2 separate regions of the Homo sapiens genome follow, and region 2 is linked to region 1. The links come from fine-mapping of genetic effects on gene expression. A gene starts in region 1. The other region holds a variant in brackets. All regions are shown on one strand. Distances are from middle to middle.

The links. PIP is the estimated chance that this variant, and not a neighbour inherited with it, causes the effect.
Region 2: its variant is the best candidate, but not a certain one, in a credible set for the expression of RBFOX3 in tibial nerve (GTEx, PIP 0.71).

The regions. Positions count from the first base shown.
Region 1 is chr17:79,607,007-79,616,070 of GRCh38, forward strand. RBFOX3 (RNA binding fox-1 homolog 3) reads right to left here and starts at 4,045. Exons shown (of 15, transcript NM_001350451.2): 1 at 3,820-4,045.
Region 2 is chr17:79,092,910-79,101,973 of GRCh38, forward strand. It overlaps RBFOX3 (RNA binding fox-1 homolog 3), which reads right to left. Exons shown (of 15, transcript NM_001350451.2): 9 at 8,675-8,735; 10 at 4,783-4,836; 11 at 4,383-4,515; 12 at 3,744-3,924; 13 at 2,604-2,665; 14 at 1,542-1,620. Among named protein-coding and RNA genes, the nearest start is that of ENGASE, 23 kb to the left of the region's middle. RefSeq lists an enhancer at 5,202-5,915. The variant A/G (reference allele first, on the strand shown) is at 4,743.

The DNA.
Region 1 (9,064 bases):
ATGTTGAGGCTGCCTGAATGTTTCATGAGCCTGTGAAAATACCGCGCTGCTTTATGAAAGAGCGTGGAGAGATGCTGCAGCTTATCAAAGGGTGGAGGTACAAACGGGATGTGTTTATAAAGCCGGTGCCTTGTGCCAGGAGCAGGGGCCTGTGGCAGGCAGGGATTTAGGGAATGGTAGGTTCCCTACCAACCAACAAACGGGTCTCTGTTGAAGGGGGAGAAAGTTTCAAGATGGCTTCTTCCCCTTCACTTGTTTAAAAATAAAAAATTCCTCACCAAATGTCAGCTGCGTGTCAGGTTCCATTTGTCTTTATAACAGAGTATCAAGCAGGAGCGTGGAAATAAATAAACACAGGGAGACAACCGACCAAAACTTGCAGGCTCTGGGCTGGGCTGGGCTAGAGGAGGGAAGCCCCACCCTGCAAGGGCTGAAAAATAATATTGCAGTTTCGCGTTCAGCACTGTGGCTCTGGCCCACTGACATGTTTTCCTCTCTTTACTGCCCCCCACCCCCTACCACCACCACTCTGGCGCTTCTGGGAGGGATAGGAGCGTGACTTATGCATTCCTTCCTTCCGAATTGCACAGGCATCATGGGTCAGAACACCATCTGCGTATATGGGGGAGGGGGCAGATAAACCAAGCAGGGCCCCTGCCCTCAGCAGCAAGGCACCTCCAACTGCCACACATCGGTATGAAGGCGCCTTAGGCCAGGGCTGAATGTGGCTGGGAGAGAGGTGTCAAAGAAGGCTGCAGGGGAGAGGCAACAGGGCTGAACCAGCCAGGGAAGATGGCATTTTCTCTGGCCACTACAGTGTCTAGTTCATCCCTAGACACCAAAGAGCCCGATAATCTCTCCATTTCACCGATGCGCCATCAGCCACGCTCCAAGTTGAGTAAGTGACAGGCGCAGGACAGAAGGCCCACTCTGGAATGGTACCCAGGAGGCCTCCTTGCTGTAATTACCTCTTCGCAGGCCCTGGGCTTTTCTGGCTCTTGAATGAGCCTCGGGAGCCCTCCCCATGTCCTCAGCAGCCTGAGGGCGGCCGCCCGCAGCGCCTCCAGCGGCCCTGGGACCGTGTCAGAGGAGGGAGGGCGAGGAGGGCAGGCTGTGGAGGCCCCGGCCCTGTCCTTGGTGCTGGCGCCCGCTGAGTGCCTGCTGAGCCACTCAGAGGCAGGGGCCGCCCATGCCGCCACCTTCCCTCGACATCCGCCTCTGGTCCCTGCGGAAGGGCAGTGAATACTCCCAGCCCCGCTGTGGCTCCCAACCGAGGTCACTGGGTGCGGAGCATTTGCCGCAAAGGCCCATCCGAGTAAGGGGCGGAGCCTAGGGACTTCCCTGGACTCCTGGCTCCTCCTGGCACCCAGAGGCGACCCGAGGTCCCCGGGGTGGGCACGGGTCTCTCTAGGCCCCAGGCCCCTGAGGAAGGTGGATCAAAGCAATCACCCAGGTTCCCTTTTTTCTTTGGGGGGAGGAGGGTGGATAGCTGCTAGAAATGGACAACTCACCCCAGAAAACCCCGGCCGTGCAAGCGCAAACAGCCCAGCACCAGTGGCAACCCCTGCCGCACGCACGCAGCCACCTCGCCAGGCCCAGGCTGTCTCGGCTTGGGTGCGTCCCTTCAACCGTGCTTCTTGCTCCTTAACCCCTTCAGTGGTCCCCACGTCACCCGCTCTGTCTCCCTCCTGGGGACAGCCTTGCCCTCCCAGAAGCTGTCAGCCAGGAAATGAAGGGTTAAGCGTTGCTTCCAGGAGTGTGCGGTGAGCGGTGAGCGAGGCGCCCACGCAGGAAGGCCTCCAGTCCTGGGGGAGGGGCGGGGGGGCCAGCCTCGGTCCTCGGCCAAAGGGAGCTCCTCGCCCGCAGGAGGCGGAGAAGGAAGGCGCGCCGGGATGGTTCTAAGAAGGCTCCCCTCCTCCGCCCCCGCCATGCCGCCCCCACGCCCCCACCCCGCCGGCGCTCAGTGACCTGGGGCGCCCCTGCAAGAGGCCCATACCCGGCTTTCATCAGGCAGCGCCTTCTCGACAACTTTTCTCCCTCTCTCCCCTCACAATTTTTGCTCACCTGGAGGGTCGGTTTTTAATTAGTGTAATATCCCCGTGAACAACGCAGCCTAATTAAGACATCCGTCCCGAATCCGCGATGCACACTTAATGAGCAGGTTCTGCCGCAATGTTTATACTTTTTTTTTCCATTATGTTTTGCAGACCAGTAAAACCGAAGCCGGCTTCCGGCTGAAAGACCTCATTACGGGCGACCCCACTCCATTAGCCTCCTACCTGCTCCACGCTAAGTGCCCGGGGCGCCCGGGTGCATGCCCAAGGCGTCCCCGAGTCCAACCTGCGTTTGGAGCAGGAAATTAGCAACCTGCGCGCCCGAGAAGCGACTTCACCACCAGCTGGGGCAGGAAGGGGGACTTAAACCCAGGGATGGATCCCTTGGGTCTCTGTCCTTAGCCTCCACCGTGGGGTGTCTCGCGCGTCGGGACTAGCGGCTCCGCGGGACTCCTTTTTAAAAGTGATCATTAAATAAATCAGGTACCTCGCCAAAGCTGGAACGGAAAGGGGAGGGGGAGGCAGCTCTGTTGTCCAGGAGTTTCTCCCCACCTCGCTGGGCCCCCGCCCCCACCAGTGGACTCCGGGAACATCCCACCCCCACCCTACGTGATACCAGGGATCCCAGGGCCGCTTGGGGACCCGACAGGTTCCCAATGCCCCTCCACGCGGGGCGCCGCGTCTCGGTCCCCGCACCGACACTGCAGGGCTGCGCGCCAGGGGAGGCTCCGCGTCCCGGGGAGGGAGGCTGCGACCCCCAGCACCAAAATGACCACTGGCCTCGCGCCACCCCGAGACGCCACAGAAGACCACCTTCCCGAGCGTGCGAGCCCAACACGCCCCGGGCGAGCCCCACCACCGCCCGGGGCCACCAGGGCAGAAAGTTTGGGCCAGGGGCGTGCCCGGCTTTCCCAGCCCGGCCGCGCTGCTCGAGGCCCTGGGGGTGGCCGAGGCTTCAGAGAGGCAGCCTCTGCTCCCGTTCCAGCCTTCCTATCGTGCTTGGGGACTCGGCCCGGAGCGCCCCCAGCCCGCCCCCTGTAGGGCCCTGCGCGCCGCTCGCCCCTCGCTGCTCGGCCCCCGCGCACACCGCGGTGCTGCGGGCCCCGCTCCTATTTGGGGAGCTGTGGCAGCCCCTTCCTCCCCACAACTCCTTTGGGTCATCAACCTCTCAGCGACCCTCCTTTCAGAGGACCCCGGCAGGGCTCTCTCCGGGCCTGGGTGCCGCGACAGACGCACGTTGCACCACCGCCGGGTCGCCAGCCTCTCTCCCACCCGCGCGGGCTCCGGCTGCCTGCTCGGACGCGCCCCGCGGGGCCGGGATCTCCGCGCGCCTCTGCCTCCCCCCGCCGGGGAGTTCCCCGCGCCGGGCATTGTGCCGCCGCCGCCGCCGCCACAGCCACCACCACCGCCACCGCCACCGCCACTGCCACCGCCACGCAGCGCGCGGGACTCCCTGGCGTCTCCATGGAGCCCGACCCCCGGGCCTTCCCATTCACAAAATCGCCCCTCTGGCCCACGGCCGGACAGAGCGTCCAGACCCCAGCCCCGGAGGGACCCAGGGACCCCGACCCCGCGCAGGGACCCCTGACCCCGAGGGCGCCACCCCACCCCACGCGCCCTCGGGTCAGCCCCGGCCGCGCTCAGCAGCCCGCCTCCCACTGCGGGGTCCCATGCGCCCCTCCGCGGCCATGTCCCCCTCCCCCAGCTCAGCCCGATGGGAATGACCGCCGCAGAGCGAGGCGGGCGACGAGGCCAGGCTACTCACGGGCTCAGCGCTCCCCGCGGCAGGTGACTGGGGGCCGGCGGCCATGCCCCGGCTGCATCCCGGCCGCCGAGCGGGCAGCGGCGTCCTGGGGCCGCACAGGCACCGGCGAGCCAGCGGCAAGGGGCGCGCGAGGCCGGGCTCGGGCGGCAGCTGTGGCAGCTGCTTCTCCTCCGACCACGCGAGCTGCTGGGGCCCGGCTGGGGCCGCTGTCCGAGGAGGTTCTGCTGGCTTCGGAGCAGCCCCGCGCTCGCTCTTCCCTCGCCTCCTCTCTCTCTCTCTCTCCTCCCTCCTCTCTCCGCCCTCCTTCTCTCTCTCTCTCTCTCTCTCTCTCTCTCTCTCTCTCTCTCTCCGCCCTCCTTCTCTCTCTCTCTCTCTCTCTCTCTCTCTCGTTCCTCTGGCTCGTTCGGCTGGAGCGAGGCGGCAGCAGGAGCACGCGGCGGCGGCGCGGGCGGCGGTGGCAGCTCGAGCGGAGCGCGCAGCGCGCGGCATGGGAGGGGGCTCTGGCTGTCGCGCGGCCGGGGAGGGCGGCGGAGCGGGGAGAGCCATGACCGGGTGGGCTTCGGCGGTCAGCACCCTGCAGCCTTCAGCGCCAACTCCTCGGGGCAGGGGCACAGAAGAGGTGGGGTACACACGGAAGATCCCAGAACCCAGTGCTGCCCTGGTCCCTTCAAGGGCAGCCCCAAGCCCGCTGCCCCTCCCCACCTCCAAGCTATCTTGGGGGCGGATCAACCCAGGTGACCCTTAACAGGACCCCTGCCCTTGTGCCTCGCTGTCCCTGGGGGCCATTTTTCTTTGCCAGGCCCAGGGATCCCCAGCAATGGGACGTGGTCACCAAGCATCAGGGACGAATGCCACCCCACCCCGCATGCCATGCCATGCCTTTGAGTTGCCCACATACCCCAAACCCCCTCACTAGGCCCAGGTGCCCTGACTTCCTGGAGGACCACTGGAAAGGAAGGGATCGGGCCCACTCCGTGCTGTTAGTCCAGATTGGCCAACCCAACCCATTTAAACATTTCCACCTGTGCCTGGCTGGAGAGGAAGGACTGTGGGAGGTCAGCTTAGGATTTCCCTAAAATCAAAAGATCAGGTAGCTCCTGTCCCCAGTCCCAGCCTCCCCCAGCATCTAGAGTAAGGGGCCTGGTGTGAGTTCTGGGAGGGTCTCTATCCTTGGTGCAGAGGGAGCAGGAGAGCAGAGGCTGAGGACACAGTGGAGTGGGGACCCTCTGGAAAGGCAGGAGAGATCTATTGCTGGGGTCAGCCCACCACTGGCACACAACACCAGAAGTGGGCAAGAAGGTCTGGACGGTCCCAAACAGGTTTAGGCAGGAGGCTGAGTAATCATTTCCAAAACAAAAGACATTCTGGTGCAGCAACCAGGCTGGAGAAACGAGCCTGCACCATCGAAGGACATTTCCAAATTACACACAAACAGATCCAAACCCGTCCCCATGTCACTTTTGCTCCTGAAGGCTGCTCCTGGAACAATTAGCCTCCTCCTCGCACCTGACTGTCCTGCTTTTCTGTGTGAGGTGAAAAGCACATCATGGAATCTGGGGTTTGGTAGGGGCCTGGAAGACCCAGAGGCCAGGAAGAGGGGAGTATGGATTTGGAGCTTCTCGGTAGTAGGGGCTCTGGGCTGCTGGCTGCCCCCCCTGCAGGGCAGCAGAGACGGTGGCCAAGACAGTGGCCGCTGCCCACTTATGAGCGTCATGCTTTTAATTTCTGGCCCTCCAGCCCGTCTGGGTCATTGATCTGTCTTGGCCGGTGGGAATCGTGTTATACAATTCCAAGCATACAGCTAAACAGCCCCACAGCTAACCACCAGATAAATGCCGTGTCTACGAGCAAGGCAGCCGCCTGGTTGACTGAACTTTCCCCTGCCACCGGATTTGAAATGGCGCATTCCAGCTCTAAAGCCCTAATTGGGCCTCTTGGTTCTCTGCTGTCAGATGGTCCAGGCTTTCGTGGCCTCCAACTCCCGGCTGGGCCCAGCCACTGCCTGGCAGGCACCTGTCTCCCTGCAGGCAGGGCTCTTGCCTCGCTGTGCCGGCAGTGCCCCCTGTCGGTCCCGCTTGTCCCTTGCCCACATTTCTTCTCCCTGGGGAGCCTTTTCCTCTCTGGTCCAGACCCTACTGCCCTTTGGAGCCTCCTCGCAGAAACCTCTCGAAGAGTGGGATTCGAGCCCATCTCCGTCTCCCTTCAGCTCCCCATGCGAGTTCTGCATGTGCCTGTGAAGTGGGGACACATTGACCTGGCAGAGCTGTGTGCCCGAGTGGAAGAGGGGTCCCTGCAAAGCATAGGGCCCGGTAAATCATTCCTTGGGGACGTTCTGGAAGAGCTCTCTGAAGACAGCACCAAATCTTGTTCCAAGTTCCACCAGTCCCAGCCCAGGACTCAGGACACGGTGGGCCTGCTCAGACGCCCGGGTGGTAAACTGAAATTGGCCTCTGTGGTTGGGACTGGCCACAGGGCCTGCGCGTGAGGACACCCCTTGGGAACAGGCCCCAGCCAGGCCGGCCTCATTACCAGCCCCAGAGAGTTTGCCCTTCGTGCTCAGCTGTCGTAGACAGGGATCTGGCCGGAAGAGAGTAAGTGTCAGGGCCAGCAGGACATACCAGCACTAACCGGGAGATTTTCCATTTGGGGACGTCATCTAAGAGAATTTTTAAAACCTCTGATTTGGAAACTTTAATTTTTAAAAAGTGAGCACATGGGGAGGACTGGGGAGTCCTTGGTAATAATCATTAGGAGAGAAACACAGGGAGACTGGGCTTGGGGCCAACAGGACGACTGAAGGCACAGAGCTAATTTCGTGCCCTCTGAAAAATCCCACTAAAACTACAAAGAGAAAATTTTAAAAAGGGGCTGGGCATGGTGGCTCAAGCCTGTAATCCCAGCACTTTGGGAGGCTGAGGTGGGTGGATCACCTGAGGTCAGGAGTTCGAGACCAGCCTGGCCAACATGGTGAAACGCCGTCTCTACTAAAAATAGCAAAACTAGCCAGGTGTGGTTGTGGGTGCCTGTAATCCCAATTACTTGGGAGGCTGAGGCAGGAGAATCACTTGAATCCGGGAGGTGGAGGTTGCAGAGAGCCGAGATCGCGCCACTGTACTACTCCAGCCTGGACAACAAGAGTGAGACTTCCATCTCAAATAAGAATAACTTTAAAAAGGCATAAACCCCAACGACCTGGAGAATAGGAGAAAAGAGAACAGTAGCCGGCTGTGGGCAGCGGGGAGGCACAGGAGAAGTGGCGGCCCGCCCTCACGGAGCTGAGTCTCGGCCCAGAGGCAGGGAAGGCTGACAATGGAATCCCCCGAAGGCTCAGAAGGCGTGGGGCCCAAGACCCGGGGAAGCCTGGAGATCCTCGGATAGCCCCTCTGGAGGTTTATTCCCTGAGGACACTGAAGCAGCCTCTGTGGCCTGGGGGCCGCCAGACACTGCGGACAGAGGGGCGTCCTGCACGGAGAGCCCCCCTTTTCCCTCACGGCACCTGTCAGCATCCTGACCTCCACCCTCCTGGCAGGAGGCCGGAAGAATCTCCTCTGGGGAATCTCACCAGCACCCAGAGGGGAAACCTGAAGATAGAGCTTTGCTGCTTCCAAGCACAGGCCCCACTCCCTGCTCGGAGCTGCCAACCAGCTTTGCAGCCCCCCTAAGGTGAGTAAAAAGCCAAGGATGACCAGACACCTGCGGAAAGCCTTCATGAGAAGGAGCCGCCAAAACACGCAACAGAGCGGGGCCGACTTCGAGGAAACAGATATTAGGCAGGGAGGAGAAAACATCAGAAATAGCAGTATTTAATATCCTCCCAGAGATCAGAGGAGATACCGCATCCATGAACCAAGAGCAGGGTGCTATTTTAAGGAGAACATTTAGAGAACAAAAAAGCTGGGAAGTTAAAAGCATGAGAGCAGAAACAAAACATCTCAACAGACAGGCTGGAAGAGAAAAGTAAGGGAATGCCCCAGAAGGCAAAGCAAAAAGGCAAAGAGGAGAAAAAGAAGAAAGAGGGGATGAAAAAAAACTAGATGATCAATTCACGAGGCTCAACACAAAAGGAATTCTAACCCCGACCCCCATAGGGCCCCCAGAGAGAAGGAGGAGGAGGAGAAGAAAGGAAATCATCAATTACTTAAGAATTTTTTTCCAGAAATAAGTTTCCAAATTGTCCACAAAATCGATGGAAATGATTCATATCAAGGCACATTATCTTGAAAAGTAAATCACTGAAGAAAAAAAAAAAATGTTTCCCCAAGTTTCCAGGTGCCATAAAAAAGAGCAGGAACGAGAATAGCTCCAGAATTCTCAACACAAAGAGGGCAGCTAACCAATCACAAAGCGTGCCTTCAAAAGCTGATGGCAAGTGATTTCTGGCCTGGAATCCCTTACTTCACAAAATTAACAATCAAACGTGAGATTAAAACAAAGACATTTGCACATGCGAGATCTCGACAAAATTATTTCCCACACACCATCTCTCAGCTACCAGAGGACGTGCTCTAACAAAACAAGGGTGTAAAGCATGAAAGAGGGCAATGAGGGATGGAAGAAACAGAGGATCTAGTAAGCGGGCAGGGATCCACATAGTGGGAGAGGAGGGAGGGCAGGAGGGCAGCTGTGTACCGGGCAAGAGGTTGCCAGTCCAGATGAGAGCAGGGTGGTGGCATGTCCAGCTGCCTAGGGCTCAGACATGTAGAGGGCTGTCACTACCAAGATGCCTCCTGCCATTGTACCACCCTTTCAGTGCCAGGTGAGCCTGGCCCCTGCTCCCCTCTGTGCCCGGCCGGCTCGGGCCGTGTTGCAGTGGAGTGCCTGTTTTCCTTTCCACGCACTGCCACCTGTGTAAGCTGAAGACCCTCATTTCGCCCCATGGAAGCATTTACTTTGATCTACTCTTAGCATCAGGAGGTGGCCACAGGGAACAAAGAAACAGAAAACACACATCAGCCCACCAACCTGCAAGAAGCCCCAGCCAAGGAGGCCCTTGGTTCCCCAGGACCCCTCATGCCTTGCCCAAGAACTCCCTAAAAGAGGCTCTTGTAAAGCGTGGGGCAGCTGCGGTTCCAGAGTTTCACATTGTCTTCTCCCAGGCTCCTCCGTCTAAGGGTAGCAGACCCAAATCATCACAGACAGAAAGGACATCATGGCCCCACTTTCATATTCAGCACTGGACACATCCACAGATAGAAAGGAGGTGAAGATGCAACTGTAGAAGGATCGAGGAAAGCAAGAGATCAGG
Region 2 (9,064 bases), 510 kb before region 1:
GGTCACTTCTCTGGGCTCAGGCCTGGCCTCTCACTGTCCTTATGCAGAGGGGGGGTCCCAGCTTGAGCCCCACCTCCTCGCACCCCAGCAGGGTGGCACGGGGCATCTTCAGAGCACTGAGGGACCTCCTGGCGGGTTCCTGGGCCTTGGCTCAAGAGCCTGGGGCCACTGAAGCCAGCTACGCTGGGAGAGGCAAGCCTGCTGGGCATAGTGTTCAGAGCCTTGCTCTCTGGGGGGGTCTCTGGGTCCTCCTGGGCCCACCTGAGGCCCAGCCCTGTCCTACTGGGGAGAGCGGGTCCTGGATGCTCCAGCTCTCCCATGTCCTGGGCTGCCTCCAGTCAGGGAAGGCTCTGAAGGGGCCTCCCACCCTCCCACCACCCAGTTTTCCCAGAAAAGAACAACACAGCAAGTGCAAGAGAAGAAAAATTGGGGAAAAATAGAAAATCTTAAAAATACAAAGTGAAAACACAAGAGGGAACCCTCCGTGCGTTAATGAAAGCTTTTAGCTTGCAGCTGCACGGAGGGCCCAAGAGCCAGGGTATCACACCTCCATCCGGGTGGGGCCGCACCAGACCCGCGCCTGTGGCTGCCCACAGCCACCACAGGCTGCTGGGGGTGTCTGAGGCTCGTTAAAAATTGAAAAAAAAAAAAAAAATTGGAGGGAGTCATCAAAACCAAGAAAGATGGGAAAAATCCATATTGCCTCTGAACCTCCTCCCTCCTCACTCTCCCAAGATGTTTTCATCTTTGATGCTGGATGCCAAGCTAGCTAAAACCCGTGTTCACACCCCGGGGCTGGGGCCAGTGGGTACAGGAGGCAGGTGTCTGCTGGAAGCAGCTCTGGGTGCAGAGTGAGCTGGGCTGCACGTGTCAACAGCTGGCCACACACACACACACACACACACACACACACACACAGAGACACGCCACGCCGCGCACCTCCCCGCCCCGCCCCTTCCACCCCACAGCCTGAGGGAGGAGGCTGGGGCAGAGCAGGCACTGTTTCCCCAGGACGCCAGGAGCCCCCAGGAAGCCAGGAGCTAGAGCCTGGTGAGAAGCAACCGGTAACCCACACTCCCCTCTCGGATGCGATGCGAGGGGGCTGCAGCAGTGCGGGTGGGCCGTGGGTATGCGGTGTGGGCAGAAACAGCCCCGGGGCCTTGGGAGCCTCTGCTGGGAAGGAGAGGCGGCCCTGGTTTGGTTTCTGAGGTTTTCCTGGTGGAAATGGGAATGGAGGGGCCTCAACGGGACTTTATTATAGTGAGGGAGCTCAGGGAAACGGATCAGGCACATTGGGGTGCTTTCCAGAGGACCAGATGGTACGGTGGGCTGACCAGCCATTCAACCTGCTTCCCCGCAACTGAGAGGGCGTGAGGGGCCAGCCCTCCCCTCACCCTAACTCACATCCAGGCCGTGGTCCTTCCAAAGTCTCCGGGACCAAGGCATTGGTCAGAGGGCTCGGCCTCTCCCCCAAGGGCCTCACCACCCATGCCCAGCTGTTAGGACTGGCACCCAGGGCTGGGCGGGCCTGGGCTCCTTACCATGGTTCCAATGCTGTAGGTCGCCGCGGGCCCGATGGTGTGATGGTACGGGTCGGCAGCTGCGTAGACTCTGCCGTAACTAGGGAAGAGCGTGGGAGGGGGAGTGGGAGGAGGGTGGGGGAGGGGGGCAGGTGAGGGGCAGCAACGGCCTCCCACCTCCTCCCAGACACTACATGGGCACCCTGTACCGAGGTCCCATCTGCAAGGCACCCTCCCCTCCTGCAAGGCCTGCAAGGCCTACCCCTCCTTCTTGTTAAGAAGGAAGCTTCTGGAACACAACAGGCAACCCTCTCAATATGCCCACAGTGTGCTGACCCTGACGGGGTGGGGGGAGGGGGTGTGTTCCACTCAGTGCTACGTGGAGGGGGATGGTGTCCTCATGGAGCTCGTCTGCAGGGAAAACAAACTTCCACCCCAAAAAGAATGTGGTAAATACTGGGGAGGGTTTCAAGAGAAGAGAGAGGGTCAACGAGGAGGGACCAGGAACACTGCCCCCAAGAATGTGACACTTGTGTCCCTCACGACTTTCCCTTCAGCAGTTTGTCTGTGCAGGGAACTCTCAGCTCCTTAGAGAGCAGAGCTGGGCCACGGCACCCTGTACACCACACTTCAGGGAGATGGAGCCGGGGCTGCCAGGAGGGAGGGGGTACAAGCGGTCCCCAGACCAGAGTGGTGGAGCTCAGCTACCAACAGGCCAGATGTCTGAGGGGAAAGGCACTAGGCTAGGTTGCTCCAGGAGGAAGCACTCAAGCGTCTGCCTCCAAGACAGACAGCCACTGTGGGCACGGGGCTTGCGGGGGGCGGTGGGGGGACTGGGAATCAGAGATGCGGTCTCCACCTGGGGTTTCCACAGCCTCCCCATGGGGTAAGCAGGAAGTGACTGAAGTCAGGGGCTCACTGGCTCAAGGGCCACACTCAGACCTGCTCCCCTGTCCCGACCCTACTCCCGCCAGGCCTGGAAGAGTGGGTTACGCCTCCTGCCTGTCTGGGCCCAGCTCCCCAGGGATCCTTGTCCATCTTCTCCCCACCCTGCTCCAGAACAGTGCTGGCCCCCGGCCTCACCTGTCGCTGTAGGCTGCCGCCGCTGCAGCGGGCTGAGCGTATCTGTAGGCTGCGTAGCCTCCCTGCAGGGTAAGTGGGAGGAGAGAGAGCAGAGGGACTTAGTGGGGCTCCCCAGGGAAAGGCTGAGTGGGGAGAGGAGACAGACCCTGTGCGGGTGGGGCCCTGGGAGGGACTACAGACCTTCCCAGCCTCCCAGCCTCGGCTGGGTAAGGATTAGGTGGTACCTGGCCTGGGCACCTAGTTCTGGTCTAACACAGGACCGAGGACTGCAGATGGCTAGGTGGCACAGTTCAGGGCGAGGCAGGTCTGCCTGTCCACTCCATTCATTCACTCATTCATTCACACATCCATCTGTGCACTCCACACACATTAGCGGGTACCCATGACTCATCTGGCTGGGTGCTAGGCCTTGGCAAGGAAGAGGTGCTCACAGACCTGCCACCAGGCCACTGAGGCCTGACTTGGATGCTGAGGGGCTGGGAGAACCCACAGTGACTCTGGATAGTGTCCTGGACACCAGGAAGGGTCAAGGGTAAAGGGCACAAGAGGACGTGAGCTCAGATGATGTCCTGGCCTCAAATGGGCAGGTAACTGAATTGTAGGCAGCTGCCCAGGACTGAAGGGTGGCTGGGTACATGGGGTGTGGCCGTCAGTGAGTCTGAGACAGAGGAAGCAGCACATGTGGCCCCATGAAGGGGGAGAAAGGCCACCGGACCCCATCAAGGGGGGTAGGCCCTGGAGCACAGGCACCCAGGGGCCCTGCCTCCTGGCCCCTCTTGCAGCCCGTGCTGTGGGTGCCTTAGGGGCTCACTCACTGACCGCAGCGTGGTTAGGGACGTGGCAGAGTCCCACTGCCCCCATTATATGAGGCCTTGCCCACAGGAAGATGGTTTCAGCTCACAGGGCTGCTGGGCGGCCCATTAACTGCTCCCTTGATGGGTACCAACAACCAAACTGTGCCATGCTGGGATTCTCAGGGATGCCATACTCTGGGCAGACGTGGCACCCTCGCCCTCCTGGCTTCAAGGGTGGGATGGGATGGGATGGGAGGAGCGGGCAGTGAGAGAGGAGACGCCGACTTCTCATTGAGACCCACAGAACGCCTGATCCCACCCTCCCTCCCGGCGGGGCTACACTTACATAAATCTCAGCACCATAAAATCCATCCTGATACACGACCCTGGAAGCAAACGGACAAGAAAGTGGTGGGAACGCTGGAGAGGTGGGGTAGGCCGGCTCCGGTGTCTGCTGAGGAGGGAGGGGGCACGGTGCCAGCCCCGCCCATGGGACTGGCATTTTAACAAGCGTTTGCTCCAGTGCCCTGTTTTGGTATAACAATAGAGTAACACCCTTGCTGATCAGCAACTTTCTCCCACAAACCCCGGGGCCCATAGCCCACCCGACCCCAGGCAGCTGTGCCCCCCACCCCTTTAGTGATGGAGGGCACCAGACCCCAGGGAATGGGAGCAGAGAGGGCTCAGAGAAGCCCCTCGCTGACCTCAAGAGTGGACAACGGCCCCATTAAAGCATCCAGACAAGGTTCTGGGGCTCTGAATGTCCCCCTAAATGCCAGTGACCTCCGCGATGCCCGCCGTGGTGGGGATAGGGGTGAAGATAATGGAGGCAGCTGCAGGGCTGAGTTCTGGGGCTCCCACGATCCTCCCCCCCCCCAGGTCTGGAAAGGCTGCCTAGCCCCTCGCACTGCGCAGGGCCTCCCCATTTCCCTCCTCCCCGCCGTCCTACCCCCTCCTCCACGCCTCCCCCGGCCCAGGTACTCACGCTCCGTAAGTCGGGATGGGGGGTGGGGGTGGCGCAGCCCGAAATGTATTATACACGGCCCGGCCCCGGCCCCGAAGATGTGCGCCCCGGTAGGCAACGGCTGTGCCGGTGGTGGGGTAGGGGAACCCCGTCACTGCAGGAAACGGGGCCCGAGACACGTGTGAGAGGCACAAGGGGACCCACCTGGCACCCCCTCCCCGTACACCTAGCCCCCCCGCGCACCTAGCCCCCAACCCCTCCCCAAGCCCCGCCCCCGGAGCGCTACTCAGTCAACACGGCGACGGGAGGGCGGGGACGGCCCACCTGGCCCCGCCCCTCATGCCCCGCCCCCAGAGCCCCCGGAGCCCCACGGGGCCAAGT[A/G]GCTGGTCTCATCCCATCCCCGCCCCGCCCCAGCTTTTACCTGCATAGAATTCAGGCCCGTAGACTGCGCCGACCACTGGATTTAGCTTCCAGCCTAAAACAAAGGCACAGAGACCTAGTCACTGCCTTCCCCGACCCTTTTCCCACCAAAACGTATGCCTGGGAACCCCAGCGACACCGGTGGAGCCCTTGGGAACATTCCCAGGGCGCCTCCCCGCGCCGGGCCCCCCTTTCCCACACTGCCCGGACAAGTGCTGAGTTCAAAACACCAGGGTCTACTCCTTCCTGACTCTTCTGCCTGGGGGTCTGCTAGGATTCTTTCCCAATTGTGATCCTCCTCAGCCTGCCCCTGAGCAACCCTCACCCCTGGGCGTCATCCCCCGAAGCCTGGGGTACCCACCTCCCAGAAGAGAACTGGAGAGGGAAAGTGGAACTTGTTATCTACCCCCCTGAGCACAGCTGGGATGAGGGTTTCTGGAGTCAGACTCAGCACAGCCCCACCATCCGAGCTCCAGGTGGCCAGAGGCTGCAGGAAAGGCGCTTGGACTCTGCCCATAAGCTCTCCCCACTGCCTGCCAAAGTCCCCGTCCTGCTCCCTCTTCCCCGTGCTGAGTCCTGCTCTCACTTTCCTCCCGTCCTCATCTTCCCCCAGAGCGGCTGTCCGGGAGGGTGGCCTGGGAGCAGGTCGAGGAGGAAAGGGCATTTGGACTGGGAATGATAATAAGGATGGGCTGGTTTTCCTCAACACTGTGTGTGAGCCACACAGACTGTTCGAAACTCACGGGGTCCTCCCTGCCCAGTGAGCCACCACACCCTCCCCATTTTGCAGATGAAGAAACAGCCCTGGAGAGGCACAGCAACCTCCCGTCAGCAGCTGGGGAGTGGCAGAGCCAGGGATCCCAGCCTGTAATCGGCATCCCAGCCTCTCCCTTCCTGCAGGTGGGCCAGTCTTCCTCTCCCCGGGGGAACCCAGGAGCAGAGCAAAGACCTGCTCCACCTGGAGGCCTCTGCGGGGGACACCAGCTGCCTTGCAGTGGGCTCCGGCTCCAGGCATTCCGACAGGTTGGGCAGGAGGGCTTCTTGACGAGGCCCAGCCCCTTACCCCTCCTCAGTGTACCCAGGTCTTATCTCTACAGCATGCCCCGTGGGCCCGGCTCCTTGTCCCTTTGCACTGGGTGGGGAGGAACAGCAGGGACGAGAGCCCACTGGCCAGCTGGGGAGATACATCTGGAGAGGGTGGCAGTGGGCCCAGGCCATGTGTGAACCCCTGACCCAGATTCTAACAACCCCACTGCAGGGCAGGCAGACTGGAGGCAGTGAGGACGGAGGGTCGGGGTATGTTCCTCCCTCTGGCCAAGTCTTCACCCCACCCCGCATCCCCGGCCCACCATCACACAACCTTGTGTCTGGACGCCATTGCTGGGACTTTGGAATCTTCCAAAAAGATAAATCCCAGGTTAGGAAGGAAGAAACTTTTTTTGGGGGTAGGGGGGCACAGTTTCTTGCTCTGTTGCCCAGGCTGGAGTGCAGTGGACGATCACGGCTCACTGCAGCCTCGACCTCCTGGGCTCAAGCGATCCTCCTACTTCAGCCTCCCGAGTAGCTTGGGCCACAGGTGCCTGCCACTACACCCACAGCTAATTTTAAAAACTATCTGTAGAGACAGGGTCTCCCTGTGTTGCTCAGGCTGGTCTTGAAGTCCTGGGCTCAAGGGATCCTGCCACCTTAGCCTCCCAAAGTGCTGGGATTACAGGCATGAGCCACTGCATCAGGCTGAAAGAAATGTTTTGTTTTCTGGGAAGACCTCCAGTCCGAAGAACTGACTCTTCTTACTAGAAGGCCCATGATGGAGCAGAGTCCTGGAGACCCTGACCCCAAGCCCAGACTCCCCGGGGCTCCATCCAGTGACTCTTCTGGGTCCACTCTGGGCGAGTGAGACTTGGAGGCTGCATGTGTGCTTCAGATGGCCCTGGGCACCTTCACCTGTCAATTCTGGCTTCCTGGATGCCTCCACCGGTGATTCTGGCTTCCTGGGTGCCCTCCCCTGTCAATTCTGCCTCTCTGGGAGCCTCCACCTGTCTCTGCTGCCTCCATTTCACTGTCTGGAACCCCAGATGGCAGAGACAGCCTGAGACTGCCTGGCTGGCCTGTTTCTACCGTAAATAGTTAACACCTGGGCAAACCTGGTGGGTTTGTTTTCTACAATGGAAACCTCCACCCCCAACTGATGAATTCCAGAGTGTTGGGTAGTGTTGAAGCCAAGTCACGCAGCACTCGCCACCAGAGCCCATGGGTTGGCTTCGGTGCCAACCTGCAGAGAACCCAGGGCCGTCCCACTGCAGCCCTCTGTGCCCAGGCTGATGAAGAGATTGAGATGAAACGGCTCTTGCTGCAAAGGTGGGCAAAGGTTCCCACCTCCCTCCATTCCCTGATGTTTCACTGGTGTAGGTTCCGTGCCCCTCATGAGCCGCATAGCCCGAGGCCATTCAGAGATGGGTCTGTTCTGATTTCCATGCTCCCCTGAATTCTCACTTCTGCCCAGACAGCGGTGGGTGTGGCCCTTGGGTGCAGAGTGGGCAGCTGGTTCCAGAGATTTTGCAGCCCCGCTGGTTGATCACCTGTACCCTATAAAAATGTCTACCGCTTTTACTTCCTGTGCCAAGTGCCAGATCACAGAAGAGTCACACCCAGGACGCACTCGGGATGCTTGCAAAGTGGGAACACTCCCAAATTTTTAAAAAGAATTTGAGATGTGTAAGTCCTCAGAAAAGCAGGATATGAGGCCATGAGAATCAAGTCTAACTTGGGCCAGGCCAGAGGCCCGGCCCCACCCCAGCATCGGACACCAGGAGAAGAGCTCGGGGGAGAGGTGGCGGATCGGGCGGTCCTGTCCAGGCTTCCATGCTGGTTGTCACCTGACTCCACGTATGGCCGATCACATGGGGGGCCATGAGAGGCTGGGGGTGACACCGTCTGAAAGTCCACGGCAACAGGGAGATCCATCCCGTCTAGGGGCAGCGCTGAGGCTTCTAAGGGGTCCGAGTGGGAAGCTGCTCCCTGGCAGGAATGAGCGGAGGCCCCCAACGTACGCCTGCTCTGCTCAAAGCAGGCCCCTTGCCGGATGGAGTTAAGACTCGCAGTGGCCACCAGTGGTCCCCCTGCTTCTCCAGAGCCAGCACTTAGCGTCGGCAGATCCATCTCCAAGGAAGACCGGCCACCTCCGTTTGCAGTGGGGTGCACACACACAAGATTCCTCAGTCTCCCCTTGCTGTGGACAGCAGGGCTCAGCCTGGGGCCTCAGGGCCACCCATGTCAAAAAGCCCCAGGAAGGCAGTTACTGTAATCACATCCTCCGAAATCTGAGCACCTCCCCCCGGGCCCTTCCTCATGGTGCTTAAAGGTGTCATTTGTCATCGAACAGCTCTGGGGGATGGTGTCACTATTCCTGTTTTGCAGATGAAGAGACTGGAACTCAGAGAGGTCTAGAAGCTCATCCAAGGCCCCCCGTGCCCTCACTGCCCTCCCTGAGCCTGCTTACACTGGGAATCGGTGCAGCAGGTCTCAGCACAGAAGCCTTCAAACTCTGGCCCTGGGGGAAAGTCAGTCCTAATCCAGGAAGGCACAGCTATCCCCCTGGATCAGAAGCCTGCACGTGTGGCCTCTGGGGGCCAGGCACGCCTGGGAAAGTGAGACTCCAGCTATGGCTGACTGTATGGGGCCATGAGAGGGGTGAGTGGCCCCCAGCTCTCCTCCCGCCTCTTCTGCCCCACCCGCTTCTGACCGGGAGCAGAGCGGCAGCCCCAGGGCTGGGACACTGGGGACGGAGGCTGCCTAGGATCCAGGAAGGTCAGCCTGCAGCAGCCTCAGCTCCCCCAGGGCCTCTGTCCCAGCCAGTGACCCCAGCAGCCTTGTGGGGGGACCCAGCCCCTTACCGTTGGTGTAGGGGTTCCCCGTCTTCTTGTTGGTCATCACTCGGGCCGTGGCATTATTGACCTGTTCAAAGAGGGAAGGAGAGAGAGGAAGAGGGAGGATTAGCCTCCTGGAAGACCCACTGGCCACTCCTCCCCGCCCTGCTCCGTTAGCCCCCGGCACCCCCCGCCCCAGCCTCCTCTCTCCACCATGCTGCCTGCCCTCCGGGAGCCTTGGCCCCCACTGCTCCCAGCACGGGCTAAAGCCCCGCCTGGCCCAGGACCCCAGACCCAGGCCTGCTGGCCTGTATCCTTCATGTGGCTGTTCCCATAAACCCAGCCCCAGGCTCCCAGGCACCCCAGGACAGCTGGAGCAGCTCCCTGGTGGACTCTCCACAGAGTGCTCTCTGACCA